Linked DNA regions of Homo sapiens. The protein of the gene in region 1 binds, or shares a complex with, the protein of each later gene. Each region holds a gene or a part of one and is shown in the gene's direction. Other genes may lie near its edges. The genes, in order: TUBGCP5, TUBGCP2, TUBGCP3 and NME7.

Evidence for each region.
Region 2: TUBGCP5 (region 1) and TUBGCP2 share a complex: the UniProt entries of both Homo sapiens proteins name them as parts of the gamma-tubulin ring complex.
Region 3: TUBGCP5 (region 1) and TUBGCP3 share a complex: the UniProt entries of both Homo sapiens proteins name them as parts of the gamma-tubulin ring complex.
Region 4: TUBGCP5 (region 1) and NME7 share a complex: the UniProt entries of both Homo sapiens proteins name them as parts of the gamma-tubulin ring complex.

The regions. Positions count from the first base shown.
Region 1 is NC_000015.10:23,015,393-23,022,785, reverse strand, and holds part of TUBGCP5 (gamma-tubulin complex component 5), read left to right. Parts: intron 1-624; coding exon 625-827; intron 828-3,405; coding exon of another isoform or gene 3,406-3,451; coding exon 3,452-3,567; intron 3,568-4,744; coding exon 4,745-5,013; intron 5,014-7,393. UniProt on the Homo sapiens protein: Component of the gamma-tubulin ring complex (gTuRC) which mediates microtubule nucleation.
Region 2 is NC_000010.11:133,284,723-133,292,115, reverse strand, and holds part of TUBGCP2 (gamma-tubulin complex component 2), read left to right. Parts: intron 1-68; exon of another isoform or gene 69-714; intron 715-808; exon of another isoform or gene 809-1,283; intron 1,284-2,146; coding exon 2,147-2,292; intron 2,293-3,095; coding exon 3,096-3,276; intron 3,277-3,806; coding exon 3,807-3,987; intron 3,988-6,487; coding exon 6,488-6,660; intron 6,661-6,902; coding exon 6,903-7,031; intron 7,032-7,393. UniProt on the Homo sapiens protein: Component of the gamma-tubulin ring complex (gTuRC) which mediates microtubule nucleation.
Region 3 is NC_000013.11:112,522,104-112,529,496, reverse strand, and holds part of TUBGCP3 (gamma-tubulin complex component 3), read left to right. Parts: intron 1-2,012; coding exon 2,013-2,123; intron 2,124-2,446; coding exon 2,447-2,555; intron 2,556-6,987; coding exon 6,988-7,177; intron 7,178-7,393. UniProt on the Homo sapiens protein: Component of the gamma-tubulin ring complex (gTuRC) which mediates microtubule nucleation.
Region 4 is NC_000001.11:169,364,798-169,372,346, reverse strand, and holds the start of NME7 (nucleoside diphosphate kinase homolog 7), read left to right. Parts: upstream 1-4,549; 5' UTR 4,550-4,636; coding exon 4,637-4,639; intron 4,640-7,549. Other genes in the region: BLZF1 (golgin-45), read right to left, coding at 2,797-2,824. UniProt on the Homo sapiens protein: Possesses an intrinsic kinase activity. Displays 3'-5' exonuclease activity with a preference for single-stranded DNA. Does not seem to have nucleoside diphosphate kinase activity.

The DNA.
Region 1 (7,393 bases):
GTGGTAAAACCTTACATAGTGACAGTACATGGTCAAAACTGGGAAACTGACATTGACACAGCACATTAGCCAAACTGCAGACCTGACATGGTTTCACCAGTGTCGCAGGAACTTGCTTTGAACAGGGGTGGGTGTGGTATATTCATGTATAGTTTATCACATGTCTAGCTCCACATAGCCACTTCCATGTTCAGATCACAGCTGTGCCATCGCCTCCCAGGAGCTTGCTTGTGCAGCCCTTTGTAGGCACAGCCTCCCTCACCCCTCTCTGTAACATTAGCCCATTGGGAGGTGTTTTGTTTTACCTAGTGTAATTTTAATTTGCGTTCTTTTATTATAAGTAAGGTCAAGTGACTTTCTGTATGTTTTAGAATCACTCATCATTCCTTTTTTATGAACTGTCAGTTCCTTTATACATTATTTTTCTGCTGAGTTGTCTTTTTCTCTGTGACTTGCAGGAGTTCTTCCTTAGGGAAATTAGGTCCTTGTGGTATGAGATTAAAATCCACCGTCCTCCATTTTGCCCTGCCTGTCCATAAGCCTGATGATTTGCCAGCATTTATGTCACATTTTAGATGCATGTATTTTTCCTTGCTGTTGAGTTTGATTTATTGATATTTGCAGATACTACAATAACTCTTGCAATAGTGGTGGACAAGTTGGCACCTCGATTGTCTCAGCTCAAGGTTCTGCACAAAGTGTTTAGTACTGGAGTAGCAGAAGTTCCACCTGATACTCGAAATGTCGTCCGGGCCTCTCACCTGCTTAACACCCTGTACAAGGCCATTCTTGAATATGACAATGTTGGAGAAGCCTCTGAGCAAACCGTAAGTGAGACTTCTGCCTAAAGTGTGTGACTCCATGCTGCACAGCAGAGGAGTGATAGACAGCTGATGGTAGTTCTTTGTTGATACTTGAATGATGACTCGTCAGACAGTTCAGAGTTTTTAAATTAACTTCCAAATTTAAGGCTGTAGGAAACTGGCTTTTCAGCTCTAATTGCCAAGATCCTCAGAAGGATGAGGCAAGGACAAGGCAAGCTGTGAGAAGTACCTACCTGATGTGTATAGATATTTACAATAACGCTTTCTTACATAAACACTAACATGTAACTAACATGACATGAGATAGCTGAAGTAGACACATCCACAGAAACAAAGTGGAATGCTGGTTACCAAGGGCTGGGGAATGGGGAGCTGTTGTTTAATGGGTACAGAGTTTCAGTTTTATAACATGAAAAAGTTCTGGAGATTTGTCACAACGATATGAATGTACTTAAAACCTCTGAACTTAAAAATGCTGAGGGTCAGGCACAGTGGCTCGTGCCTGTAATCCCAACACTTTGGGAGGCCGAGGCAGGAGGATTGATTGAGCCCAGGAGTTTGAGACTTGCCTGGGCAACATAGTAAGACTCTGTCTTTAAAAAATTAGTTAAATTAAAATTTTTTAAAATATACAGTTAAGATAAATTTTATGTTATATATTTTATATTGTATTTTAAAAAATACAAATCTAGGCCATGCATAGTGGCTCACGCCTGTAGTCCCAGCTACATATGAGTCTGAGGTGAGAGGATCACTTGAGCCCAGGAATTTGAGACCAGCCCGGGCAACATACTGAGACCCTGTCTCTACAAAAAATTTTTAAAGTAGCCAGGTGTGCTGACACCAGGAATTCGAGACCAGCCTGGCCAACATGGTGAAACCCCGTCTCTACTAAAAATACAAACATTAGCCTAGTGTGGTGGCGAACACCTGTCATCCCAGCTACTCAGGAGGCTGAGGCAGGAGAATTGCTTGAACCCGGGAGGATGCAGTGAGCCGAGATCGCACCACTACACTCCAGCCTGGGCAACAGAGCAAGACTCTGTCTCAAAAAAGGTAGCCAGCTCTGGAGGCACATGCCTATGGTCCCAGGTACTCGAGAGGCTAAGGCAGGAAGATGGCTTGAGTGTGGAAGGTCAAGGCTGCAGTGAGCCATGTTTGTGCCACTGCACTCCAGCTTGGGTAACAGAGCAAGACCCTGTCTCAAACAATATATAGATTTAAAAATAAAAATCTAACTAGAGGCTGTAATTTAGAATGCTACAGTCTTAGTTGGGTATGTACATTAGGTGTATTTTCTAGTTTGTTGGTATAACTTTTTTTCACACCAATTTAATACCATATTTCTTTTTTTCTTTTTTTTTTTTTTTTTTTTTTGAGACGTAGTCTTGCTCTGTTGCCAGGCTGGAGTGCAGTCGCACGATCTTGGCTCACTGCAACCTCCACCTCCCAGGTTCAAGTGATTCTTCTGCCTCAGCCCCCTGAGTAGCTGGGACTACAGGCGCACATCACCATGCCCGGCTAATTTTTTGGGGTTTTTTTTTGTTTTTTGTTTGAGATGGAGTCTCGCCCTGTCGCCCAGGCTGGAGTGCAGTGTCATGATCTTGGCTCACTGCAACCTCTGCCTCCTGGGTTCAAACTATTCTCCTGCCTTAGCCTCCTGAGTACCTGGGATTACAGGCGCCCACCACCATGCCCATCTAATTTTTGTATTTTTAATAGAGATGGGGTTTCACCATGTTGGCCAGGCTGGTCTCGAGCTCCTGACCTCCTGATCCGCCTACCTCGGCCTTCCAAAGTGCTGGGATTACAGGCATGAGCCACCACACCCAGCTGTATTTTTTTTTAATAGAGATGGGGTTTCACCATATTGGCCAGGCTGGTCTCAAACTCCTGCCCTTGTGATCTGCCCACCTCAGCCTCCCAAAGTGCTGGGGTTACAGGCGTGAGCCACCATGCCCAGCCAATTTCCTCATCCTTAATGGATGCTTTGCTAGTAATAGGATTTAGATAGGGAAACCTTGTTCGCTTGCCTGGGCTATCTCAGGATACACCTGCTGCCTCTGTGTCACTTTCACTCTCAAGTTTCCCAGTCTGGACTACAAACAATATGATCATCCCATATTTAGGTGAGTTTTTCTTTTTTCTTTTTTTTTTCTTTTTGTTTTGAGACAGTGTCACTCTGTTGCCAGGCTGGAGTGTAGTGGCACGATCTTGGCTCATTGCAGCCTCCACCTGCCAGATTCAAGCAATTCTCCTCCCTCAGCCTCCCAAGTAGCCAGGACTACAGGCGCGTGTCACCATGCCCAGCTAATTTTTGTATTTTTAGTAGAGAGGGGGTTTCACCATGTTGGCCAGGATGGTCTCGATTTCTTACCTCAGGTGATCCGCCCACCTCGGTCTCCCAAAGTGCTGGGATCACAGGCGTGAGCCACCACGCCCGGCATTTAGGTGAGTTTTTCATAAGGATTTTATAGTGTATGTTTTTGGATTTTTAATTTCTTTGTGCCCCAAAAAACATAGAAATCCGATCACTTTTTTAAAGGCATTTCAGAAATGTTTAAACCTCCTTTTATCCTAGTGACCAGGGAACCCTGAGAGCTGACCGTGCACACTCTCTGCCTCAGGTCTCCCTCCTTTTCTCTCTCTGGGTGGAAACGGTGCGGCCTTACCTGCAGACGGTGGACGAGTGGATCGTGCACGGGCACCTGTGGGATGGCGCCAGGGAGTTCATCATCCAGAGGTGAGCTGCAGCAGAGCACAAGGTCACTGGGGGCTGGCATCACCAGTTTCCTCCCCATGAAAATCAAATGCTTTCGTTAGTTTCAGACAGTACTGAGAAAGCACAGTTCACATCACAGAACTTGTCGTCATCATAGGCAAGTTCTATCTCATTTTTACGGAAGGCATCAGTAATACCAGCTGATTAGAAATATCTTTGTCCAAGTTTTGTCAGTCCGCAACTTTTCTTAAGCAAATTATATTTTTGGATGGTAGTATATTTATGGCTAGCTAGTACACACTGCTTCCCATAAAATGAGTTTAGATGATATCATATGGTTTCAGCTATTTCCATTGTAAATTATCAGTAAAGAGATACAGAAATATTACAGAGTATGCCTCTAATATATTTATTTCTCTGAATTATCTACTGATTTCTTTTACCTTAGTATATTTTACAAAACAAGGAAAATCTTAATCCATTTATGACAATTTCCCTTCAGTTAATTGATTTTTCTGAATAGAATCATATAAACAATGTAGAGCTATTTGTACTCTTTTAGCCCAATTTTAAATTATGCGGTATATTTAGATATATGGTTTCTATTGATAGCTATCCATTGAGCTCATCAGGAAGGATAACTTTAAGTCTTTAGTGTTCTGGAAGGGTAGCAATATGTATGCAATGCTCACATAAGTGAACTGACCCTTCCTTCAACTCAATCTCATATCTGTCACTGTGTTCTGATTCATCAATCTCACATGAGAATTTTTGTGAAAAATAGGACTCTGACTGTTCTTCTAGGGTGATGATTGACCATCATTTTATTGTTAAAAGTAGTCCAGTTAAGAATCTTTGTAGGGAAAATGATAGAGAAGTCTGCAAATTAGTTTCACAGCAGATGGTAAATGGATAAACTTTTATTCTTCTTCTAAAGAGGACCAAATTAGTCATATTTTAAATAATTCCAATTCAGGAAACTATTTCTACTTAAATTTTACTTACACTATTCAAAGTATTTATTCACTTTTCTCTTTAAACTGAGATGAGATTAAAACTGTCCCATTTTGCCTAAAGTTTGCTTCAGTTTACTAATAATTAATACTATGTTTTATAATGTCTGGACAACAAACTAGAACAAGTATGCTGTTTTTAAGAAAGAGAAATAAGAGTTTAAAATTCTTTTGAATCTCTTTAGAAACAAAAATGTTCCAGTTAATCACAGAGACTTCTGGTATGCAACTTACACGTTATATAGCGTATCAGAAAAGACAGAAAATGAAGAAAAAATGAGTGATAACGCTAGTGCGAGTTCCGGCAGTGACCAGGGGCCCTCCAGCAGGCAGCACACCATGGTGTCCTTCCTCAAACCTGTCCTGAAGCAGATCATAATGGCTGGCAAGTCGATGCAGCTGCTGAAGAACCTGCAGTGTGCGGAGAGCACCACCTGCCAGGCAGGAGCCAGAGGTACTTGTTCCGTCTTCCTGTGTCTCTCTTGGTGTTGGGACACCTGACCCTACTCGCTCTTGTCATCCTGATACCTAATTATTTTGTAGTTTGCAAGTCATCAAACCCTCTTATTTCGGTGGCAATTATCGTCATGGTTGAATTAGTAACCATGCTGCTCTTGATTTTTTAAAAGATTGTCTTCATTGAAAACTTTTAGTGCTGTGTTTGAAAAGGCAGTGACGATAAGTTCCACATGCATTTTCCTCACTCTGGATTCCTTAGGACTGGAACTTTAAAAAGTAATCCCCTGCCATTTCTTTTCTTTTATTATTTTTATAAATTGACATAATAATTGTACATATTCATGGGGTACATAGTGATGTTTTGATACATATATAGTGATCAGATCAGGATAATTAGCACTTCCATCATCTCAAACATTTACTACTTCTTTATGTTGGGGACATTCAGTATCCTCTTCTTTGCTATGTGCAACTCTATAATACATTATTAACTATAGTCATCCCATAGTGATACAGAGCACTAGAACTTATTCCTTCCAGCTAGCTATTTGTATCCTTTAACAAATATCTTCCTCTTTCTCCCTTCCCCCTACAAAATCCAGCATCTGGTATCCTGTTCTACTTTTTACTAATACGAGATCAACATTTTTTAGCTACCAGATGAGTGAGAACATGCAGTGTTTAACTTTCTGTTCCTGGCTTATTTCACTTAATGTCCACCATTTCCATCAGTGTTGCTGCAAACAACAGGATTCACTCTTTTATCTTCAAGATATATACATATATATATATATATATCTCACAATTTTTTTACCCATTCATCTGTTGTTGGGCACCTAGGTTGATTCCATGTCTTGGCTGTGTGAATAGTGCTGCAGTAAACATGGGGGTGCGGATGTCTCTTTGATATCCTGATTTCCTTTCCTTTGGATAAATGCCCACCAGTGGGATTGCTATATCATATAGTAGTTCTATTTGTAGTTTTTTGAGGAACCGCCAAACTGTTCTCCATGGTGTCTGTACTAGTTTATGTTCCCACCAACATTGTGTAAGAGTTTCCTTTTCTCCACATCCTCACCAGCATTTATTTTTTGTCTTCGTGATAAATAACCATCCTGACTGGGGTGAAATGATACCTCATTGTGGTTTTGATTTGCATTTTCCCTAATAATTAGTGATGCTGAGCATTTTTTCATCTATTTCTTGGCCATTTGTATTACTTCTTTGGAGAAATGTCTGTTCAGATCATTTGCCTTTTTTTTTTTTTTTTCCTGAGACAGAGTTTTACTCCCATCACCCAGGCTGGAGTGCAGTGGTGCAATCTGGGCTCACTGCAAGCTCTGCCTCCCTGGCTCAAGTGATTCTCCTGCTTCAGCCTCCTGAGCAGCTGGGATTATAGGCACCCGCCACCACACCCGGCTGATTTTTTGTGTTTTTAGTAGAGACGAGGTTTCACCATGTTGGCCAGGCTGATCTCGAACTCCTGACCTCAAGTGATCTGCCCGCCTTGGCCTCCCAGAGTGCTGGGATTACAGGCGTGAGCCACCGTGCCTGGCCTCATTCATTGAATTCTTTCACTGTAAAATTTGTTTGTTAAACATCTGTTTCTGTTGAATTTCTCATTCAAATCATTCTTTTCCTGATTTTGTTGAGTGTTTATTTGTACTGTCTTGTATCTCACCGAGTTCTCTTGTATCTCACCGAGTTTCCTTAAGATTTTAATTCTGAATTATTTTTCCGGCATTTCCTATATCATTGTAGTCTCTTGCTAGAGAATTATTGGTTTTCTTGGGAGGTGTCATGTTTCTTTGCTTTTTCATGTTTGATGTATTTCTACATTGATTTCTACACATCTGGTGGGAAAGTCACCTTTTCCAATTTTATGGAGTACGTTTTGTAAAGAGTTATTCATATGAATGGGTCTTGGAGTGTGGGTTCAGTGGGATGCATTCACCTTGGTTCTGGACAAATGCAGTAGTATAGTCTCCATGTACTTTCTTCAGTTGTAATCCACTTTAGTGATGTTTGCAAGTGCCTCAGTGGCCTACAGTGAGGGGGTTTGTGGCAACAGTGGCACAGTTGGCTGGGCGTGGTGGCTCACGCCTATAATCCCAGCACTTTCTTTTTTGAGACAGTCTTGCTCTATTACCTAGGCTGGAGTGCAGTGGCATGATCTCGGCTCACTGCAAACTCTGCCTCCTGGGTTCAAGTCATTCTCTTGCCTCAGTCTCTCAAGTAGATGGGATTACAGGCATGTGCCACCACGCCTGGCTAATTTTTGTATTTTTAGTAGCGATCGGGTTTTACCATGTTGGTGAGGCTGATCTCAAACTCCTAGCCTCAAGCAATCCACCCGCCTCGGCCTCCCAAAGTAT
Region 2 (7,393 bases), on another chromosome or scaffold:
ATGGGGGACACGGAGGGACACGGAGGGACACGGAGGGACACGGGGGACACGGAGGGACATGGGGGACACGGAGGGACACGGAGGGACACAGAGGGACATGGGGGACACGGAGGGTGCGTGCTGCCCTCTCCCGTACAGGTAGGGCTCCCCGGGACACGGGGACACGGAGGGACACGGAGGGACATGGGGGACACGGAGGGACATGGGGGACACGGACGGTGCATGCTGCCCTCTCCCGTACAGGTAGGGCTCCCCGGGACACAGGGACACGGAGGGACATGGGGGACACGGAGGGACATGGGGGACACGGAGGGCGCGTGCTGCCCTCTCCCGTACAGGTAGGGCTCCCCGGGACACGGGGACACGGAGGGACACGGGGACACGGAGGGACATGGGGGACACGGACGGTGCATGCTGCCCTCTCCCGTACAGGTAGGGCTCCCCGGGACACGGGGACACGGAGGGACACGGGGACACGGAGGGACATGGGGGACACGGACGGTGCATGCTGCCCTCTCCCGTACAGGTAGGGCTCCCCGGGACACGGGGACACGGAGGGACACGGGGACACGGAGGGACATGGGGGACACGGACGGTGCATGCTGCCCTCTCCCGTACAGGTAGGGCTCCCCGGGACACGGGGACACGGAGGGACACGGGGACACGGAGGGACATGGGGGACACGGACGGTGCATGCTGCCCTCTCCCGTACAGGTAGGGCTCCCCGGGACACGGGGACACGGAGGGACACGGGGACACGGAGGGACATGGGGGACACGGACGGTGCATGCTGCCCTCTCCCGTACAGGTAGGGCTCCCCGGGACACAGGGACACGGAGGGACATGGGGGACACGGAGGGACATGGGGGACACGGAGGGCGCGTGCTGCCCTCTCTGGGGGCTCTGGCCTTCCTTTGCTTGTGGTCTCAGGAAAGCACACCCCGGGCAGATGTCCGCCTGCTGCCCATGGGGCCCAGGGCAGGAATGGCCCAGCTGCTTATGGCCTTATTCTTTTGTGTGCAGGACATTAAATTGCCTCCAATTAGGTCCTTCAACCTCTTTGGTGCTTGGATTTCCTGATCTGGTGGGGTCTGTCGGCTTCTCTTCAGTGCGATATATTTAAATGGATAAAAATATGTTAGTTCCCAAAGAATTGTATTATGTCTATTACGTCAAGATACCGTTGTTGAAATATTTTCAAAAAATACATTAGTGATGTGGAAATGTTATTTCTTTACTAATGGACCAAATAAAATCTGGTATAATGGGCACCTTTAAAGAAAGCACCTTCACACTTGAAGTGCGTAAATGATGTTTGAAGTTGTTCAGATGATGACGTGGAGATGTCTGGTTTCTGTCAATGTTGGCCCCGCCTACCCCACACGAGCATCATTTTGGGTGTCAGGGCCCCACGCACCCCACACGAGCATCATTTTGTTGCCTGGGCTCATCATGGAAGGAAATGCTAAATTCCAAAAAGAGGTGGGTGCAGATAAAGACAAATCAGTTTCCCACCTATCTCTGCGGACCGTACATTCTCCCTGAGCCCAGGTTAAATACTCCGTTCCAGAGCGAGGTTTGTAGGTTTGTTGGTTTTCTTTTTTTTTTTTTTCTTTTTTTTTTTGAGGCAGAGTCTCGCTCCATTGCCAGGCTGGAGTGCAGTGGCATGATCTCGGCTCGCTGCAACCCCCACCTCCCAGGTTCAAGCGATTCCCCTGCCTTAACCTCCCAAGTAGCTGGGACTACAGGTGCACACCACCACGCCCAGCTGATTTTTTGTATTTTAGTAGAGACGGGGTTTCACTGTGTTGGCCAGGATGGTCTTGATCTCTTGACTTCGTGATCTGCCCACCTCAGCCTCCCAAAGTGCTGGGGTTACAGGCGTGAGCCACTGTGCCCGGCCCCTAGGTTCGTTTTAGCCGAGAAGTGTTGGGGTTACAGGCGTGAGCCACCGTGCCCGGCCCCTAGGTTCGTTTTAGCCCACAGTTGAGAAGTAACTGGTAGATTAGGCTCGGCCCTTGTGGAACGTTACTTGGAAGTGTGCTGGCCTCTGTTAATGTCCCTGCGCGCTGCCGGCCTGGAGAAGTGTCGCCTGCCTCAGGCGCCCTTGCTTTGCCTGTGACCGAAGCGCTCCCTGTGGTTTTAGTGAGTTTATGGTCGAGGAGCACGAGCTGCGGAAGGAGAGGATCCAGGAGGATTACAACGACAAGTACTGGGACCAGCGGTACACCATCGTCCAGCAGCAGATCCCGTCCTTCCTGCAGAAAATGGCGGACAAGATCCTCAGCACAGGTGCGGCGCAGCGGGCGGGGACTTGGGGTGCGCAGCACAGCTCTGCCTGGAGAGTCTCCTGCAGCCCAGGCCCTCCCACCGGGAGCCTGTGCCTCACCCTGTGGTTGCCCTGAGCCCTGGTGTCCGTGAATGCGGGGCTGAGGTCAGGACTGGCCCGTGGGCTGGGCTGCGGCGCTGAGTTAGGCCTTGAGATGGTCTCTGTTGCCAGGTTCCCTCAGGTTTCCATCTCCGGGACTCTGTCCCTGACCCTGCGAGGCTCTCTCACAGGTGCCTTCTCTATTTCTGTTTCTGATTTCTAAAACTCCGCTAGCATGTCAGGAAAAACCAGCAAAGACACACGCCTGGCGGCCGGCAGTGTTTCCTATCTCTGACCACACAGGTTAGGGCCTGACCTGGACCCAGGGCAGTGGCGCGGGGACTTGGACTCGGCACATCGGGGCCGTCACGAAAGGGTTGGGAAGCGATTAGCCATCCGGTTCTCATAATGCCTGTTCGAAATTATTTCTGTGCCCTTGGTTAGAAAATTCCAGATGTGCAGAGCCACGGCAAAGCCCTGCCACCACCAGCTCAGTCTGTAGCCGCTGACAGTGATTTACCGGGAAGGAGCAAGGGTGTGGAGCCGCCTCATGCAGCCCAGTTTCCATTCCACTGCCTTCTGTGTAGACAAAGACAGCTGGGGCCTCAGACTGACCGTGTGGAGAGCCCATTCAATGTCCATTCCACTGCCTCCTGTGTAGACAAAGACAGCTGGGGCCTGAGATCGACCATGTGGAGAATAAAATTTTGAATTTCTGTGTTTTCAGGAAAATATCTAAATGTGGTCAGAGAGTGTGGCCATGACGTCACCTGCCCGGTGGCTAAAGAGATCATCTACACGTTAAAAGAGCGGGCGTATGTGGAGCAGATCGAGAAGGCGTTTAACTACGCCAGCAAGGTGCTGCTGGACTTCCTGATGGAGGAGAAGGAGCTGGTGGCTCACCTCAGGTGATTCCGTGCCCTGTCCCTGTGCGGGCACTCACCTCCCTCTGAAACCGGAACCTGTGGGACGTGGGGCTGAGATCGCTGGGTTTCTTCTGGCAGCTCCGCCTTGTCTTTTTGAAAGTGGGCACTGCTGGATGGTCTCTAGCTCAAGGACCTGGCACTCACAGTGGGTGGTGTAGGCCCCCGGTCACCTTGTCCAGGGGCCCCAGCTCCCCTCCTTGCCCAGGGCCCACCAGCCCCTTCTCAGCTCCTCCTGCCACAGCTTGCGTGGTGGTTGCACAGCCCCTGCCTGAGAGCCAAGCGCTTAGCCTGTTGTAGTGTGTTTTAGGGTGATGGCTATGGCGAGCATCTGTGGGTGGGCACGTGCTCACGCCTGCTCCCTGGCCGTGGCGGGCACCTGCGGGTGGGCACGTGCTCACGCCTGCTCCCTGGCTGTGGCGGGCACCTGCGGGTGGGCACGTGCTCACGCCTGCTCCCTGGCTGTGGCGGGCACCTGCGGGTGGGCACCTGCTCACGCCTGCTCCCTGGCGCAGGTCCATCAAGCGCTACTTCCTCATGGACCAGGGCGACTTCTTCGTGCACTTCATGGACCTCGCGGAGGAGGAGCTCCGGAAGCCGGTGGAGGACATCACGCCCCCTCGCCTGGAAGCGCTCCTGGAGCTGGCGCTGCGCATGAGCACGGCCAACACTGACCCCTTCAAGGACGACCTCAAGGTGGGTGGGGGTGCCGGGGGCTGTCCCCTGTGGCAGAGGCCTCGGAGGGGCTGGGAGGAGAGCACAGCAGAGGCCAGCCCTGTCCCCCACTCCCCGTCCCGGTGAGGCGACCGCAGGGTCTGTTTCCTTCACTTGGCTACCGGGGCCGGCTTGCCGGGATCGGGGGTCTTTGTGCCTGTGCTCTGGAGGGGCGCGGGTCTCGGGTTTTCCTGCAGTGCCCTCGTCCGGGCCTGGCTTTCAGGTCATGCTGGCCTTGTGGAATTGTTTTCACGTGTCCCTCCATCTGTCTTTTGAAAGGGTTTCAGGTCTTTTGAAAGGGTTTCAGGAGTGGTGTTAATTCTTTTTGTTTTTGCCTTTTTGTTGTCGTTGTTTTTTGTTTTTTTTTTTGAGACGGAGTTTTGCTCTTGTCACCCAGGCTGGAGTGCAGTGGCATGATCTCAGCTCACTGCAGCCTCCACCTCCTGGGTTCAAGTGATGCTCTACCTCAGCCTCCCGAGTAGCTGGGATTACAGGTGCGCGCCACCACGCCCAGCTAATTTTTGTATTTTTAGTAGAGATGGGGTTTCACCATGTTTCCCAGGCTGGTCTTGAACTCTTGACCTCAGGTGATCCACCCACCTTGGCCTCCCAAAGTGCTGGGATTACAGGCATGAGCCACCGTGCCCAGCCGTTTTTTAAAATATATATATGTTTTATCTGTTTTTTACTATTTTTAATAGAGACGGGGGTCTGTGTTGCCCAGGCTGGTTGAACCCCTGGGCTCAAGCGATCCTTCACCTGCGCCTCCCCAGGAGGGTGTTGATTCTTTGGCTGTTTGGCAGGGTTTGCCTGGGAGCTCTTGGGCCCTGGGTTTGTCTTTGTTGGAGACTTTTGAGGGGGACTTGGCCCCTTGCTGGCCACAGGTCTGCTCAGTCCCTTTCCTCTTGGTCGGCTGTCTGTCTCGCATCTTGTCTGGTGCACAGTTCATGGGTTTCTAGTATCTGCTTTTTATTTCTGTAAGATTAGTAGTTATATCCCTTCTTTTTCTGATTTTAGTAATTTGAATCTTCTTTCGTCTTAGCTGATGTAGCTAGAAATTTGTCGATTTCATTATCTTTTCAAAGAACCAACTCTTGGGTTTGTTGACTGTATTTTTCTGTTTTCTCTCTTCTGTCATCTTTGTTACTCCTGTCTGCTGCTTAGGGGTTCAGTGTGGTCTTCTTTTTTCTAGTTTCTTAATTTGAAAAGTTAGTTTACAGCTGTAAACATCCCTCCGAGTGCAGCCTTCGCTGATCCCCTAGCGTCATAATTTCTGTTTGTCTGGAGGTGTTTCTGATTCCCTCTGATTTCTTGTTGGAGCCGTGGGTGGTTTATGTTTAACTTCCACATGTTTGTGAAGTTTCTGGTTTTCCTTCTGTTGCTTGTTTCTAACTTTATCTCCTTGTTAGAGAACAGACTTTTTGTGATTTCAGTTTTGTGAAATGTATTGATTTGTGTAGTGGCCCCACATCCATCCTGGAGAGTGTTCCGTGCGCGCGGGAGGAGGATGTGCCCTCGGTTCCGTGCGCGCGGGAGGAGGACGCGCCCTCGGTGCTGTTGGGGTGGTGTTCTGCAGGTGGGTTGAGGCCGTGTCTTTCCTCACTGATCGTCTGTCCGGCGGTTCTCTCCGTGGTTAGAAGTAGGGCACCGAGTCTCCCTGTCACTGAAGAACTGCTTTTCTCCTTGTCATTCTGTCTATTCTTGATTCAGATATTTTGGGGTCTCTTGTTAGGAGCAGGAATATTTTCGTAGGAAAAATTCCTGGTAGTGAAATTGTTGGGTCACAATACATGGCCCTTGTATGACTAGGCTGACCTTGCTGGAGTTGATGGAGTCCAGTCTCAGGACGCTGCTGTCTGCACACCTGCGAAAGCTCCCACCTTGGCTATTTGATGGACAAGTGATGTCAGGGGCTCATTTCTGCGTTTGTGATGGTCACGATTTCGTCTGTCCGCTGCTTGTTTCTTCTTGCTTTATCCCCTGCCCTTCATTTCCTGTCCTGTCGTTGTGCGATGGTTTTGTAGGAACTCTGTTGCGGGTGGTTGGAACTTAGCAAATACTCGAGTGATTAACGTGAGGACAGTATTACTTGCTTATAATAACTATTATGTCCCTCGTCAAATATGCTTCATTTTTCAACCTGGGCCTGGTGCTTATCATGGTACAAAGGTTTTCGTCCTAAGGAATCACGTTTCTTTCACCGTCCTTAGCGGTTTTTCCCTTATACCACCCACAGCAGCAGTGGGTATTTACAAAGTAATTCATCTGAATTTTTGTTGTTTTGTTCTGATGGGAAGTGGTTCAGTTTTGAATTTGATTTATCAGTAGATGTTTGGGTTTTTGAAAAGCCTCTGATATTTAGAATCGGAATGTAGGGAACCTTACGTCAGCGCTGGGTCTGTGAGCGAGGATGGCGATCGGGATGCGACTTCGGGTCTTTTCCTTAAAACTGGATGCTTTGTTTCATTTCCTTCCCTCCAAGATCGACCTGATGCCCCATGACCTCATCACTCAGCTCTTGCGCGTCCTGGCCATCGAGACCAAGCAGGAGAAGGCGATGGCGCACGCCGACCCCACGGAGCTGGCGCTGAGCGGCCTGGAGGCCTTCTCTTTCGACTACATCGTCAAGTGGCCCCTTTCGCTCATCATCAACAGGTGCGGGTCGGCTGCTCGGGCACCTGCCAGATCTTCACTCAGGTTTGGCAGAAGCGAGAACTGTGCCACGCGGTGGCCACCTCGTCCCACAGAGGACCCAAGGCGGCTCTCCCCGGCCTTCAGTGTCCGAGAGATTCACGGGCTGTCCGGGGGCCACGGTGCGGACTGTGGAGTACAGACGCCGTGTCCACGACGCCGCCGGTCACGGAGGCCCACCTGAGGTGCCGCCACGTCTCTTGCAGGAAAGCCCTCACTCGCTACCAGATGCTCTTCAGGCACATGTTCTACTGCAAGCACGTGGAGCGGCAGCTCTGCAGCGTCTGGATCAGCAACAAAACCGCCAAGCAGCACTCGCTGCACTCCGCCCAGTGGTGCGTTCTTCCTCTGCCCCCGCATGCCCTCCTGAAGCAGCGCTCGCTGCACTCTGCCCAGTGGTGCAGCGCCCCCCTTGTGCCCTCCTGGTAGACAGCTTTCTAGGCTTCTGGAAGTGTCATCTGGAAGCGCACGTTGGTGGCTTTAGATCCATAATGCTTCATTGCTTCATTTTCCTGTCTTGGGGCTGCACGGCGCTGCCGTCCACCCCACAGGGGATGCTGGCTCTGTCCCTCAGCCCTCTCTGGAGCCTTGTGGTGACTGCACGGGCATGGAGACTGCCCAGGTCGGTGTGCAGGACACTAGCTCCTCCCGAGAGCGGACAGCCACATCTTGCTGGGACCAGAGGTGCTTTGCAGCC
Region 3 (7,393 bases), on another chromosome or scaffold:
AGCACTGGACACGCTTAAATCCACGCTCTCATGATCATAAAAAACGAATTGGTCATCATTGGAGAATGTAAATAGAGGCATTATCAGATGCTTCCTCAGCATTTTTTGATATAGTCAAATGATTTCCTCTTTTAATCTGTTGATATAATTAATTCTGGTGATATTAACAATTCCTGATGAGGCATCCTTAGCTCAGAGGAAAGGATGGTGTATTCATTAAATGGGGCCGGCTCGGCCAGTAAAGAAAAAAATGCCATCCAGGAGAAGACGTAGACTTCCCCCTTATAACATACTGTGTGCCAGGATTATACCAAGTTCCAGAGGAATTAAAGATCTAGGTAATAGGCCAGGCATGGTGGCTCCTACCTGTAATCCCAGCACTTTGGGAGGCTGAGGCAGGCAGATCGCTTGAGCTCAGGAGTTTGAGACCAGCCTGGGCAACATGGTGAAACCCTGTCTCTACCAAAAATGCAAAAAATTAGCCAGGCATGGTGGTGTGCTCCTGTGGTCCCAGTTACTTGGGAGGCTGAGGTGGGAGGATGGCTTGAGCTGGGGAGGCAGACGTTGCAGTGAGCCAAGATCATGCCAGTGTACTCCAGCCTGGGCCACAGAGTGAGACCCTGTCTCAAAAAGAAAAAAAAACAGATCTAGGTAATAAAAATAACTCAATAGAAATACTGAAAGAACATGATGGACAATATTTTCATAATCTAGGAATGGGAAGATCTTAGGAAGACAGGAAACTCAGAAACCATAAAGGAAGACTGACATTTATCTACATATAACAAAAAAATAGATCAGAACTAAAATATGGACCATACTATAAACAATGGCAAATGATTAACTTGGAAAAATTAAATCTCTAATATTTAATGATTCACAAATGGTCACTATTCCTAATGTACAAAGAATTTTTGTATATTGATGAGAGAACAAAATGAATAGCAAGATGGGTCAAGGGCATGAAAAGACCATTCACAGGAGAAGAAAAGCAAATGGCAATTAGAACTATGAAAATATGCTCGGCTTCATTTTTGGTTAATGACAGCAATATAGGATAACCATGATTCCACCTGACTGGCAAAATCTAAAATGAGCCAGGATGCAAAAACAGGACATCTTGCCCGTGGGAGCGTCAGTCTACACAGCTGTGTGGAAAGGAAACCTGGCATTGTCTATAAAAACTAAAAGCTACTTTAATTCAGCAGTTGTGCTTTTATAAAACAAGTTTATAGAAATAAAAGTGCAATTCTATTAGGGTGTATGATTGAAAAATGAGAATGGCTGCATTGTTGTAGTGGCAAATAAACTGGAAGCAACAGCAATTGAATTTTCTCCTTACTGCTCAGTTTCCTTTCTAACGGCAGTGATGTAGGTGCCCGTCAGGGTCAGGGCAGGGGAGCTGCATGCCAGTGAGGAAGAAAGCTCCTGAGCACAGATGGTTCCTGGGGGAGCCACACAGGGGTCACTTCTACAGTGCCACCTGGCTGGTGCTGGCCCCTTGTACACATGGGTACATGTACAGCAAGGTCTGCCCATAGAGCTTGGGACTTGTCTGTGAACAGAGGACGCCGGCCTGGGCACCTCTGTGTTCCAGGCTTTGGGGCTTTGCAAAAGAGAGACTGCAAGGGCAGGCAGACTGATGGGAGGAGACACACAGCTGCTGCCTGTGAGGGAGGGGAACCCCAAAAGCCTGCACCGTTACTGAGGAAGAGCTCCGTGTGGCCCAGGAAGCCTCAGTATTATGCTGCAGAGGCACTAATGGACATTCTGAATCTCCAAGGAAGACATAACTTGTTTTTGTTATACTTTAGTTTTAAAAGTTTAGGAAATACATAGTTCAATTTAGAGAGATTTCTGTGTTTCATACAAGTTTTATTGTATAAATAGGTAAGACTCCCTGTGTCTGGAGAACTTGGCTTTCTAGAATAACTTACTCTTTGATGTTGCTGTTGGTTAATATTTTGCCATAAATATCACTCTTGAACATTTCCATGCCCCTTTGCTTTCAGTTTTTTGTAGCATCAGATCCAACAGTTAAAACAGATCGACTGTGGCACGACAAGTATACTTTGAGGAAATCGATGATTCCTTCGTTTATGACGATGGATCAGTCTAGGAAGGTAGGATTAGAAGAGATTTTTGTGATTTTGATGTTTTATGGCTATGTATACTTAGATTATGTGACAAAACCAATTTTCAGTTAAAATTTCATGCGTTTTGAGATTGTTAACGTTCTGGAGATGAAGTAAGTGCATGTTAATTGAATACATCAGTATAGTATGTGTTCAATATATCTTTGAGTTACTAGAATTCGCTCCATACTGTAGCAGATGCTCTTGTTAGTTTTCAATCAATAGCCAATTTGTAGCTTACGAATATTTGTAGATTTGGGCAGTCGTTTTAAATTTACATAAAAGTAATCATAGAATGTTTTTCTTTTTAGGTCCTTTTGATAGGAAAATCAATAAATTTCTTGCACCAAGTTTGTCATGATCAGACTCCCACTACAAAGATGATAGCTGTGACCAAGTCTGCAGAGTCACCCCAGGACGGTATGATGATGCTGGTGGGGTGGTGATGATGGCAATGGTGTGATGTTGATGATGATGTGAGGATGGTGATACTCATGGTAACAGTGATGTTGATGACGTAGTGATTGTGATGGTGTGATGATGGGGATGATGGTGATGTGATGATAATGATGTTGGGGATGGGTGGTGATGATGGCGATGATGAATGCGTGGTGGTGGCAGTGATGGTGGTGATGATGTTGATGGTGATGATGATGGGGGTAATGATGGTGGTGTGATGATGGTGATGTGATGATGTTGGGGATGGATGATGGGGATGTGATGATGGTGTGCTGGTGGTAGTGATGATGGTGATGATGATGATGGTGATGATGTGGTGATGGTGTGATTATGGTGATGTGATGATGTTGGGGATGGGTGGTGATGATGGCATGGTGGTGGCAGTGATGGTGGTGATGTTGATGGTGATGATGGTGATGGTGTGATGATAGTGATAATGATGGGGATGGGTGGCGACGGTGATGATGGCGTGGTAGCGGCAGTGATGGTGGTGATGATGTTGATGGTGATGATGGTGGTAATGATGGTGATGGTGTGATGATAGTGATGATGGGGATGGGTGGTGATGACAGCGATGATGATGGCATGGTGGTGGCAGTGATGGTGTTGATGATGTTGATGGTGATGATGGTGGTGATGATGGTGATGGTGTAATGATAGTGATAATGATGGGGATGGGTGGTGATGATGGTGGTGATGATGGCGTGGTGGTGGCAGTGATGGTGGTGATGATAGTGATGGTGATGATGGTGGTAATGATGATGGTGATGTGATGATAGTAATGACAATGATAATTGTGATGGATGGTGATAGTAATGATATGATGATGGTGATAGCGGTGATGATAGTGGAGGTGATGATGATGTGCTGATATTACAGATTACTTAAAAGTATTTTTTGTACCATAGGATTTATAGATTATTAGAATTACTCTCTGATACACCTTAATACATAGTATTATGTATGTATATATATAGTACTGTGTAAATTTTTAATTTCCTTTTTATACAGTTATACAGTAAGTGTTGGAATAGGTATAGCTGTTTTAAAATGATAAAGTGGCAGTGTGCCAAAATAAGAAATAACAGAAAAAATATTGCTAATGGTAGCCTATTCTTTGGGATGCAAAGGCTTTGTTTGGAGAAGAGCCAGGACTTATTGCACTTATTGTGTTTATTGCATTCAGAATGTCGCATGAGCGTTCAGCCTGTGGGAAGTGCTGAGGCTTTCCCTCGTTCTCTTCCTTTTCCCCATTTGCCGCCTGCCCCACCCTCAGTAATTTCATGATGTTTTGTGTATGGCTAACTTATATTTATAGCTCTCCAGTTTTGGCTGTATTTGCTATTTATATTGTCATGGTTCATTCAAAAGATTTACTTTGCGTAGGACACTGTGGTAGCTACAGGAAAGAGACAATGACTTCACCATGACTGTTCCTTTCATGAGCTTATTAGTCTGGTCTTGGAGAGGAGATGTGTAGTAAAATAACCAGTAGTCAGTAATAAAGGTGAAAGTGATCAGGGACGTGAGATGTGCAGGTGAAGCGCTTTGGGTATTTTCAGGCAAGGCTCAACAGGAAGGCTTTGGAAAGAGGCAGGAATTGCACTGGCCATGGAGAAGGAGGAGAATTTGGTTGTGGGTTATTGCGCAGCCCAGGACAAAGGAATAATGTGCATGGAAGTGCAGAAGAGAAATAGGACGAATTAGACTTATCTAAAGATTGTAGTGAAAATAAAAAGTTATTATTTAATAATGTGACAGACTAAAGAGAGACAGACTAGGACCTCATGTAGGAAGCAGGATAGGTTACTGGGTATGGTTTTAGCTACAGGTGTTACTGGAATGACAGATGTTCTCTTAACAGGACTTGGCTCTCTGGACAGGAGGGCTGGGGATCAGGAAGAGTCAGTGATGGCACTAGAACTCTGAGCTCGTGAGGCCAAGTCGGAAGGGCAGCAGGGGATTTCGGGAGAGCATAGCACTGAGAGAGGAATGTCATTTCGGGCAATTTGGTTTTCAGTAGCTGAGAGGACTTACTAGTGGAAGCTTCCAGCATGTATTGGAAATGCTATACTGAAACTCTGGTTAAAAGTCAGGGCCGAATATAGAGATTTTGGAAGCACTTATCTCACCATGGTAACTCAGGACAAGGCAGGATGGTGTAGCAAGAGCTCCCGTGTGGTCCAGGGGAGACACCCTTTCCAGGCATGTGAGAGCCATGGGCCCTCTCACCCTAAAGCATTCAGACATAATTTTACATGTATTTTTTTGTGGGGGGGTACATAGACCCCAGATTGTTCCTGGAATAGAGATAGATGTGATCCAATATAGATTTTGGGGAAATGCTTCTACACTGAAGAGGTGGAAGGAAGAAGAACCAGGAGAGCAGTTGTGTTCGAGTTGTGACCTTTCATAGTTCCTAGAGAAGGCGGCGCACACATGGGCTGTGCCTGGGACAGGGCGTCCCCATGCGCCTGCTGTGCCGGAGGCTCTCCATGAAGGTTGCTGCTGCTTGTGTGAGCACCGCGTCTGCTGTGCTGCTGGCGGCCCCTGTACCCACCGCCCCACATCTGCAGATTCAATCAACTGAGGATCAAAAACACTTAAAAAAAGGCAGCCACTAAAAAAATACACAAAAAACCAAGACAATTTAACAGCTATTTGCATAGCATGTACATTGCGCTAGATATTATAAGTAATTTAGAGATGATTTACCGTATATGGGAAGATGTGTGTAGGTTAGGTGCAAATATTGCTTCATTTTGTAGAAGAGACTTGAGCATCAGGGAATTTTGGTGTCTGTGGGGGTCGTGGGATTGGTCCCCTGCAGATGCTGAGGGTGACGGGGCGCTGCTGCTGCTGACGCTGCTGCTTCTCTGTGACGACTCCTGTGGTCCCCGTCGTCCTGTCCATGGCTGCCAGGGTCTGCGGAGAGCAAAGTTTCTGCTGTTGAGTATTTATAGTATAACTGGGAAGACAGAAGATGCAAATCCTAAAAGACTCCTAGTAATGGTCAAAAAACAGGAGAACATGTCAAATTCATTTTTATCTGTGAAAAAGTTATGAAGATTTAAAAGTGTGAATAAAGAATAAATAGTGAAAATTTAAAAACTGAGCACGAGAGATGCCTCAACCCTGAAGGAGCAAAGAGAGTTCCGAGGAGGCTCTGGGTTCTGTGTCTTCATAGGCTGCTTTGGGCTAAGACTGATTCAAACCTTCTCTTTGGAATGAAAATTTTTAATGACTCAAACAAGGGTGTAATGAAAACATTTCTAGAGAAAAATCTTTATGTCATTAAAACTACGTAGATCAATGGAAATAGAACCCCATGCCCTTAAAACAGGACTGTGGTGAGCTCATCAAGGGGTTCCGTGGTGTCGTGACTCCAGGCAGACCTCACTCATCCTCAGATAACTACAGTTTCTTCACTGGGAGCATCTTAGTTGTTTGCTACTAGTGTGAAATTGGAATAATAGCAACACTAAAATAGGCCTGTCTTAACTGCTTTCTTATTCGGAAGGACAAACAAATCTTAAGAGTCTTCTGGTATATTTAAACTGGGTAACTCAGATAGTGGAAAGAGACTTAAACTCTGAATCAGAAGATCTCGCCTTTCTTGTCCTTGCTTAGTCTTCAGCTAGCGTTTTGCCTCCTTCTCTCAGTCTGAGGTTGTTCCTCCCACTGGGGTTATTGTCTAGCTTAAGTATTATTGTGGGTTTAATGAAATGAAGTATTCATATAAGTTTTAAAAATGGTTTTGTGCTTTGCAGATGTAAATCAGCACTGTAAGAAGCTCTGTTATGTGTATAGTCTCCACCTGCAATTTCTTCTCAATAGAAAGCTATGGAAATGCTTTCTTCCGCTATGTTACTGCTTAGAGTCAGGCGTCTTTATTGGTGACAATCTGGTTTTGTCCCCTAGACATCTCCACCAATCTCCGTAGAGTTCACTCTATGGTGCATGATACTACTACTCAACTTTTGCGAGTTGTACAATTCACAAAGCTTATTTGCATGTGCTGTTTTGGTCTTAAGACTAATTTATGGAAACATCTTATGGGTATGGACGGGTGACTCAGCACTGACTTGCCCTATTACCAGTGTGTTTTGGTGAGATTTACGGTTAGTTACAGTGTATTAAGGGATTTGGAAATCATGAAGACACACATGTAGGTGTCTGCTGTGAACCCAGCTGGCAGAATTGTTTTCATGTGTGTGGTCTTAGGGCTCTGGTCTCCTTTGTGGAATGTCCAGCTGTCTGTGCCTGCGGTCAGTCTGTTACTGATGCCACAGGCAGTGGTTGGCCCTGAGTCTGGATGTATGTGCCTTCATTTCTCCTCTGTGGAAATACAAATTACATATGCATGTGTGCTCTTCCCTGTTGTTCTTTACAGCTGCAGACCTATTCACAGACTTGGAAAATGCATTTCAGGGGAAGATTGATGCTGCTTATTTTGAGACCAGCAAATACCTGTTGGATGTTCTCAATAAAAAGTACAGCTTGCTGGACCACATGCAGGCAATGAGGCGGTACCTGCTTCTTGGTCAAGGAGACTTTATAAGGCACTTAATGGACTTGCTAAAGTAAGGCACTATTTTGATTTCTATAAATAAGTAATATATTTGACATGATAAGGAATCTTGTATTTAAAAGAATAAATTATATTAAAAGAAAATGAGTTGAATTCTTCGAGCATACTTTTTAAAATAAAATCTGAAAAGAATGTAAAATTTTCAAAAGGTAAAGCCCCTTCATTTTTCTCTGGTTATCAGCAGAGCATCATTGTCATGTTCTGTGCT
Region 4 (7,549 bases), on another chromosome or scaffold:
TTCCTCTACCCTAAATCATTAATTCCTAACTTGGTTATAGTCTGAAAGACTTTCCAGAACATATACAAATTCAGCTATGATACAGTTAAACAAATTAGGGATTGTCATGTGGTAATTTTAAATCAAGAGTCTTTTTAAATGTCACCCATATCACCTAATAAAGTTTAGTTATTATTAAATTAGTAAAATAAGTTACATACAATGGACTTAAGAGTAACATCGAGATTTACTGAAGTGGAATCTAAGCATTCTTCTTACCACAGGCTCTATGGATAGAGATCCCTGGTCAAATAAGTGTGGGCAATGTTGCATACTGCATCTCTACAGAGTTTCAATGTACATTAGTATTAAAGTTATACTATAGGACTCTGAGAGGTCCCATAGTATAGCCTCTCTTTTAATACAGCATTTATCAAATTTATCTGCTCATGGAATATCTTTTTTACCTAACACCTATTATTCTACAGAACTAGTGTTAGACTATTTTATGGAATCAAAAATATTTAAATGTCTCAGACCTTTCTATTTGGTCTACTATTACTAAACTAGTTGACTTTAATAGCTTTATTTTCAATTTTAATCCCACATCCAAGAAAAGCTTTGGATTTTAAGTTTCTAATTGTTACTATTTACTGTATGTTTCCCTTTCAGAAACAGCACTAGCAGCCATGATACAACCCTCTTATGATGACAGTGCTGCTCAAATGTCTTCTGAGAGGAAGTTCTGTTGCTATACCAAACAACCGTACTTATCTCCTGAGGCAGTTACAGGAAGCACAGACAACTGACAAATGTCAACCAAGTACACCTTTTCACAGGCCATGCAATACAAGTAACTTTTGTTCACTAACATCAGATGACAGATTAAATAGAAATATGGCTAATAGAATTATTTTCCTTACTGGATAATTAAGATCACACAAAATAATGTTTGTTAAAGTGCCTTATAACTCTAATCCTCATTAAAAACAAGTAATAATAAATATTAAAAAGTAATTTAATTTCACAGAGAACTTGCCAGTACTTCTAATGACTAATCATAATATTGTATTTAGTTTTTGCTTTTTGACAAGCACCATGTTGGTTGCTTTCACATTAATTATTTAACTGCTCTTATTTCCCATTAATCCCCAGTTTATTACTTTCATTACAGTCTCTGACTTGCTTATCTAATGGTATAAAAGCCTTCTGGTGACTTATGAAATGCTGTTGCAAAGCTGAATTAAATTCAATTAAATATTTATTAGCATGATCTTTCTTCCTTGTTTCTTAAACTTATTTCAACCTGCTTTTAGAGAGGGTTTGTGGCTGGAGGTCAGTTTGCTGAAAAATTGGCATCTAGAAAACAGTTTTCCATCTTTAACTGATGGTTCTAGCATGCAGAACTCAACCCATCCAAAGAATAAGCTGGGTCAGGAGAAGTTCACTATGGGACATGTTAAAATTGTTGCCTACAGCTATGTGAAGATGGCCAGTAGGCAGTAGTCTATAAGGGTATGAATCATAAAGAAGGAGATTAGGGATATAGATAGATTTGGAAGTCATTTATATAGATAATTACTGAAGTCATGAGAGTAGAAAAGAAACAGTGGTGGAAAGTGTTGATATTTAAAAGATAAATAAGAAGGAGAAGAGGCTGAAAAAGAAAGAGAGAAGATACAGCTACAGCAGGGCTGTCCAACAGAATTTTCTTCAATGATTGAAATAGCTACTCGCCATATTTGCCTACCGACCACTTGAAGTTTGGCAAGCGTCATTGAGAAACTGAATTTTTAATTTTTAAAAAATATTAATTTAAATTCAAATAGCCACATGTAATTACCGCATTGGACAGTGAAAGGCTACAGAGTAGACTGAAAATAAAAGTGATGTCATGGAAGTCATCAAAAGAACGTATCTCAAAAGGCAGGGAATGGTCAACAGTATTAAATATTAGAGAGGACAAATCAGCTAGGACTAAAAAGTGACTACTGTATTTAGCAATTTAGGGGTTGAATTGTGTCCCCCAAATCTTTATTTGTTGAAGTACTAACCCCCCACTACCTCAGAATGAGACTTCATTTGGAAACAGGATCACTGCAGATGTAATTAGTTAAGATGAAATCATACAGGAGTAGACTGGGTTCCTTTTTTCAATATGACTGCTGTCTTTATAAAAAGGGTAAATTTAGACACAGAAACATGCACATAGGGAGAATGCCATGTGAATATGAAGGCGGAGATAAGGGTGGTACGTCTACAAGACAAGGAGCACCAAAGACTGCCAGCAAGCCACTGGAAGCTAGGAGAGTGTCTCTAATGCCTTCCGAAGGAGCACAGCCTTGTTGACATTTTCATCTTGGACTTCTAGCCTCCAGAACTGAGAGAATACATTTTGTTGTTCAAGCCATGCAGTTTGTGGTACTTTGTTACAGCAACCCCAGCAAACTAATACAACATGAAAGAGATCTTTGATACACCCTAGTTGCTTTGTCTATCTACTTAAATCTTTAAAATGTGTATTCTTATTTAAATCGTAATCTTCTAGTGTATAGGGAATATAGCTGTTAAAAACTTTGCATTAACATTAAATGTTTAAGAGTAGTCACCTAATAAATTCTAACTAATGATGTTAAATTTCACTTGTACATCTAAAGTACTGAAATATAAACACTGCACTAAAAAATAAACATAAAGGGATCTGAAATAACAAATGATTCCCAAGGGGGTCCATGAGATCTAGTTATCTGGCTCAAACGTTCCTTCACATCGTCATAAATGTCATGTTTTAAAAACAATTATAAAAAAGCCACTTACCTTTGGTTTCTAAATTTTTAGTAGTCATTTTTTCACCTTAACCACTGAAAATGCACTCCAAGACTTCTGCTGAACAACCTAGAAATGTATGCATATGAAATAATTTTAAAAATATCATATAAACACATAGAGTACCTCCAATTTAAAAGTTATGATATTTTAATTGCTTCTGTATTTAGTACGCATGCATTTAGAAAGAGAAATGTCCCTTATATCCCATTCTCACAGAAGGCATTGTTATGTCTACTAAAAGTCTCAAAAAAAAAAATTAGGGGTGGTTTACTTCTAAATACTCCGTTTCACCATCCTCACCAATACACTCTAAATTGTCAGAAGTATGTCCTGAATTTTAGCCAAGCAAAGGGAATGAAGTTACTGTGGTGGTTTTGTCATCCATATGACAAGAGGAATTTTAAAGTAATTACTTTCTTAGGAGACATACCGACACAATTTGTATACACACACACACATATCAAAAAGGAGCTTCTGTTTAGATGTTTAACAAACGACAAAAAATATTACTCAAGATAACATAATTTATACTTTTTTGGTAATAAAAAGTTAAAATTAAAATAGTGTAGCTCCAAAAGTAAAAAGAGAAACATATCGAGCCCATGCTTTCAGAAATGTATACATTGTCTTACAGTACAGACTCAGATTTACCAGAGAACATATAAGAAGGTGATGCTACTGCAATGATATAAATATGACAAACTGTACACTAGATGACAACTGGTTTCACTACAAAAAAAGATCGTTCTCAGTACTAGATACAACTCAGTTCAATTAGTGAACCCGACGACTAACTTTCTTAACAGTCACAAACTTTTCTACACTTACACTCTACTGCTCCGAAAAGAGGTATCCAAAAAACCCTTCGTAAGAGTAACGATCCCTGAAACTGCCCTTGATAGCTGCTCTGCGAAACGTACAGGCACAGCGAGTGCCTGCTGGCAAATGCCAAATGAAGCGGAGGGGGTGAAGAAGTAAGTAGGGGGAGTGAGCAGGTATGAAAGCGATAGGCCGGGAAGCGACAAGCCTGTCAACTTTGCTGTCCGGGGAAGTCGAAACCTAAGTTTCATCCCTGTCTGAAAAAGTCTTCCCGGAACAATCTTTCCCTAAATCCAAAGCTACTGGCCACCGAGCTCCAGCCAGACCTCCGTCCCTTTCCAACATCCTTAGTTATACCTGCTTGTCCTCGGATTTACCTCTAAGATTCTTATTCTCCGTATTTCAGGGGGCTTCACTTGATAGGCTCTTCGGATCGGTATCACCAGGTTAACTTCTCACAGACCTCTTCCATTCGGAAGCCGACCCGCCCAGTCCCTCCGCATATCCAGCAGCTCTCTCACTCCTAACCACTTCCGATTACTCAGGGTTTCGCTTCCGGAATACGTTTCCAAAAGAGCAGGGTAAACAAATTCTGCAGTGCGTATAAACTCAAGTAACACAGAACACACACTGTAAGGCCTCCGTAAGTGAAAAGCGGACAGATTTCTACTTTAAAATAAAATACCGTACAGCAACTTTTGGAGCCCAAGCCGCATATTCACTTAAACTTCCGGGCCAGCTGTTAAACAAACGGAAGTAAAACTGCCGGAAACAGAATAATGGCGTCTCGTAGCCCCAGGCGACAGCGTGGAGGGGCGGGTCTGTCGATTGGATGAACGCAGCTGAGATTACTCCCAGCCACTAAGGACGAAGAGGTGGGGCGGTGGCGTCCCACGCCTCGTGCGACAGTGGGCGGGGCTTTGTTGCCTGAGTAACCGTATGATGGTGGTGGTGGTGGTGTCTTCCTGTCTCAACGATACCTATTTTCTAGTGCTGAGATCCTGAGACAATGGTGAGTGCCAGGGGATGCCAGAAGAACGGCTCTGGGGTCCTACTTACTTAGCTTTCCAAGTCTTCGGGCGGATGGGCACTTAAAGTTGTCCGGTCCTCCCGACCTTCTCCCCGTTATCTCTTTCCCCCTTCCCACGGGCTGTTCCTGCAGTCTCCTCGCTCTCCGTATTTCTTACAGCACCCTGAATTCCACTAATGTTACTAAGTCTCTAGAGTAATGAAACAGAAAATTTAGGGTAAGGCATCGAGTCTAATAACCTGTTTTGAACAAACATTATGTGTTTGCATTGTTCATCATGGCATTTTTCATGTTCACAGATTCACATTAACGCGCTTTATTAAGAGTATGGGGTGGTGTGTATGTGACTGTCTCAACACTGATCTGAATCTCCCTAGATCTTGGAGTCTTTTTGCTTTTCTGAGTGGCAGAGCACTGCCCCACGCCCCCACGAGGGCCATTAACAGGTGTATGTTGGATCAGCGCTCTTCTATCCAGTTGGTTACCTTCTAGGTCTGTGCTTGCTTTTCTTTTCTCTTTTCTTTTCTTTCTTCTTCTTTTTTTTTTAAACAGAAATTTCTCCTGGGATTGCTTGGAGAGCTTCTGGAATTCACTGTTTGGGCTTCACCCCTGGAAATTCTGAATGAAAGGAATGGAGCTCGGTATTTGCATTTTAAATAAGCCTATAGGTTATTTTAATTCACCCCTATGTTTGAGAGGGTTCTAGTTAATTCACTTAACTACCATATCTTTTAAGCACTTATGGATAACGGACTGGAGGATAGAAAGATCTTTAGATAGTTATAGCTATGAATTTAGAAACAGAGCCCTCACCCACCACCCCTTGTTTCTTCATACTACTCAGCAATCCTTTTGGTTACCCCAGTTTTCCCCTGACCCATTCTCTGTGAAGACATTTTCAAACCTTCCCTTTACAAACCCTGTCTTTTGCCCTCTTCATTTCTCCTTTCTAAACATGATGGAGTATAACAGGCCATTTCTTCAACCTCATGCCCCCAACCTACACATTGCTCTATATTTTTGCCGAGCCTTTAGTCTTGTATTTCTAGTGTAGAGAAAGGGATATTAAAGGATAATCCATCCATCTTTGCTCTTGATCTCATTTGCTTCCATCTGTTACATTTCGCTTCCAGTTGTTTTTTTCTTTCCTGTGCGTTCAGCCTTTTCCTCTCCAGTTTCTTCTCTTCAGTGCTCAAGTCACACATCTTATGAAAATTAAATAAAGCAAAACCATGTCCTCCATCCTGTGTTTATCCAGTTATTTCCTAGTCCTCCTATCTATCAGTAAACTTCTTGAAAGGATATTATTTTTACTTATATCAAACAGACAAAAGTCTTCTGTCTGGCTTCTTTAATGGCTTCAAGAAAGTTGTTCTTGCTTAAGTTTCTAATGGCCTTTTAAATACCAAATACAGTAATTACTTCTCAAAATTTACATTACTTAGTCTCTTTGTGACAACTGAGGTTCATAGTCATTAATTCCTTTTACTGGCTGTGCCTGGTTTTTGAATGTCATTCTTTGGAATTAACTCCTTGATTACTTTCATTTCTTAGTCTAGACATTTTCCTTGGGTGATTTTGTCCACTCACATGGATTCTACTAACACCTTTGATTTTGCTTCTAAATTTCAATTTTCCTCTCAGATCTACTAATGCCTAACTCAGTTGCTTCCCGGACACATCTGTCTCAAATGTCCTTCAAACTTAATATGACCAAAACTGAACTTGCTATCTTTCCTCCTGGTTTCTCCTATTTTCACCAAGTTAAATAATGCTACTACTATATTATAACCTAAACTAGAAATCAGAGTTATCCTACATTCCTCCCTCTTCTATTTCTCCCATATTCAGTTGTTCACTAGATCAAATTTTAGTTTGTCATCTCCTCATTTCGTGATTATTTTAATAGTGACTTTTACAGTCTGGTCTGGAAATTCTCCAATCCATTATTTTCTCTGCCACAAGAAGGAATTTTTAAAAACCCAACCTGTTGATTTACTCACCTCCTTAAAACTCTAGATTCCCTATTTCCTACAGTAAAATGTCTAGAATGGCACACAAGTTCCTCCATGAACAAGCACTTTTCTGTCTAGCTTTTGCCTTTCCCTTTCCATACTTAAAAAAAAAAAATTCTCTTGCCTTTTAGCTACTTGCTTTTCATTGAACATACCAAGCAACTTCAAACTGGTAGTATGCCTCCTCTTTCTACTTTGCACTTGCAATTCCTTCTACACAGAATACTTGCACCCTCTTGTTGCTTGCCAAACTTATTTATTCTCCTATTACAGGCCAACGTGTTCTTCTTGCCCACTTCCCAGAAAGGCCAAACATTGAGAATGCAGGAGTTGCAGCAGAGAAAGAGTTTAATGGAGGCAAGGCAGTTGAGTGGAAGGATGGGAAATATTTCTAAAATCCGCCTCCCTGACAGCTTGGAAGTTGTGGTTTTCAAGGATAATTTTGTGGGCAGGTTGGTAGGGAATGGGCGCTGCTGATTGGTTGGGGATGAATTTATAGGTGTTTCCAAACTGTCTTCCTGTGCTGAGTCAGTTGTCTAGGTGAGAGTCATAGGACTAGTAGAGTCAGTTTCTTGGTATGAGGCATGTATCTGGGTGGCATCAGGAGGTTTGCCAGAATGCAGAAGCCTGGAAAATATCTCAAGACCAATCTTAGGTTTTACAATAGTGATGTTATCTAAAGGAGCAATTGGTGAAGTTACAAATCTTGTGACCTCTGGCTACATGACTTCTGAATAGTAAGAAATTATAGAAAAGCAAGGAACAGTAGCTGGTTATTGCTTACCTATGCCTATATTTTAGCAGATTTTAGGTCCCTCCCATAGTCCTAACCTTGCGGCCTTCTATTAGTCTTACAAGGCTGTTTTAGTCCCTAGAG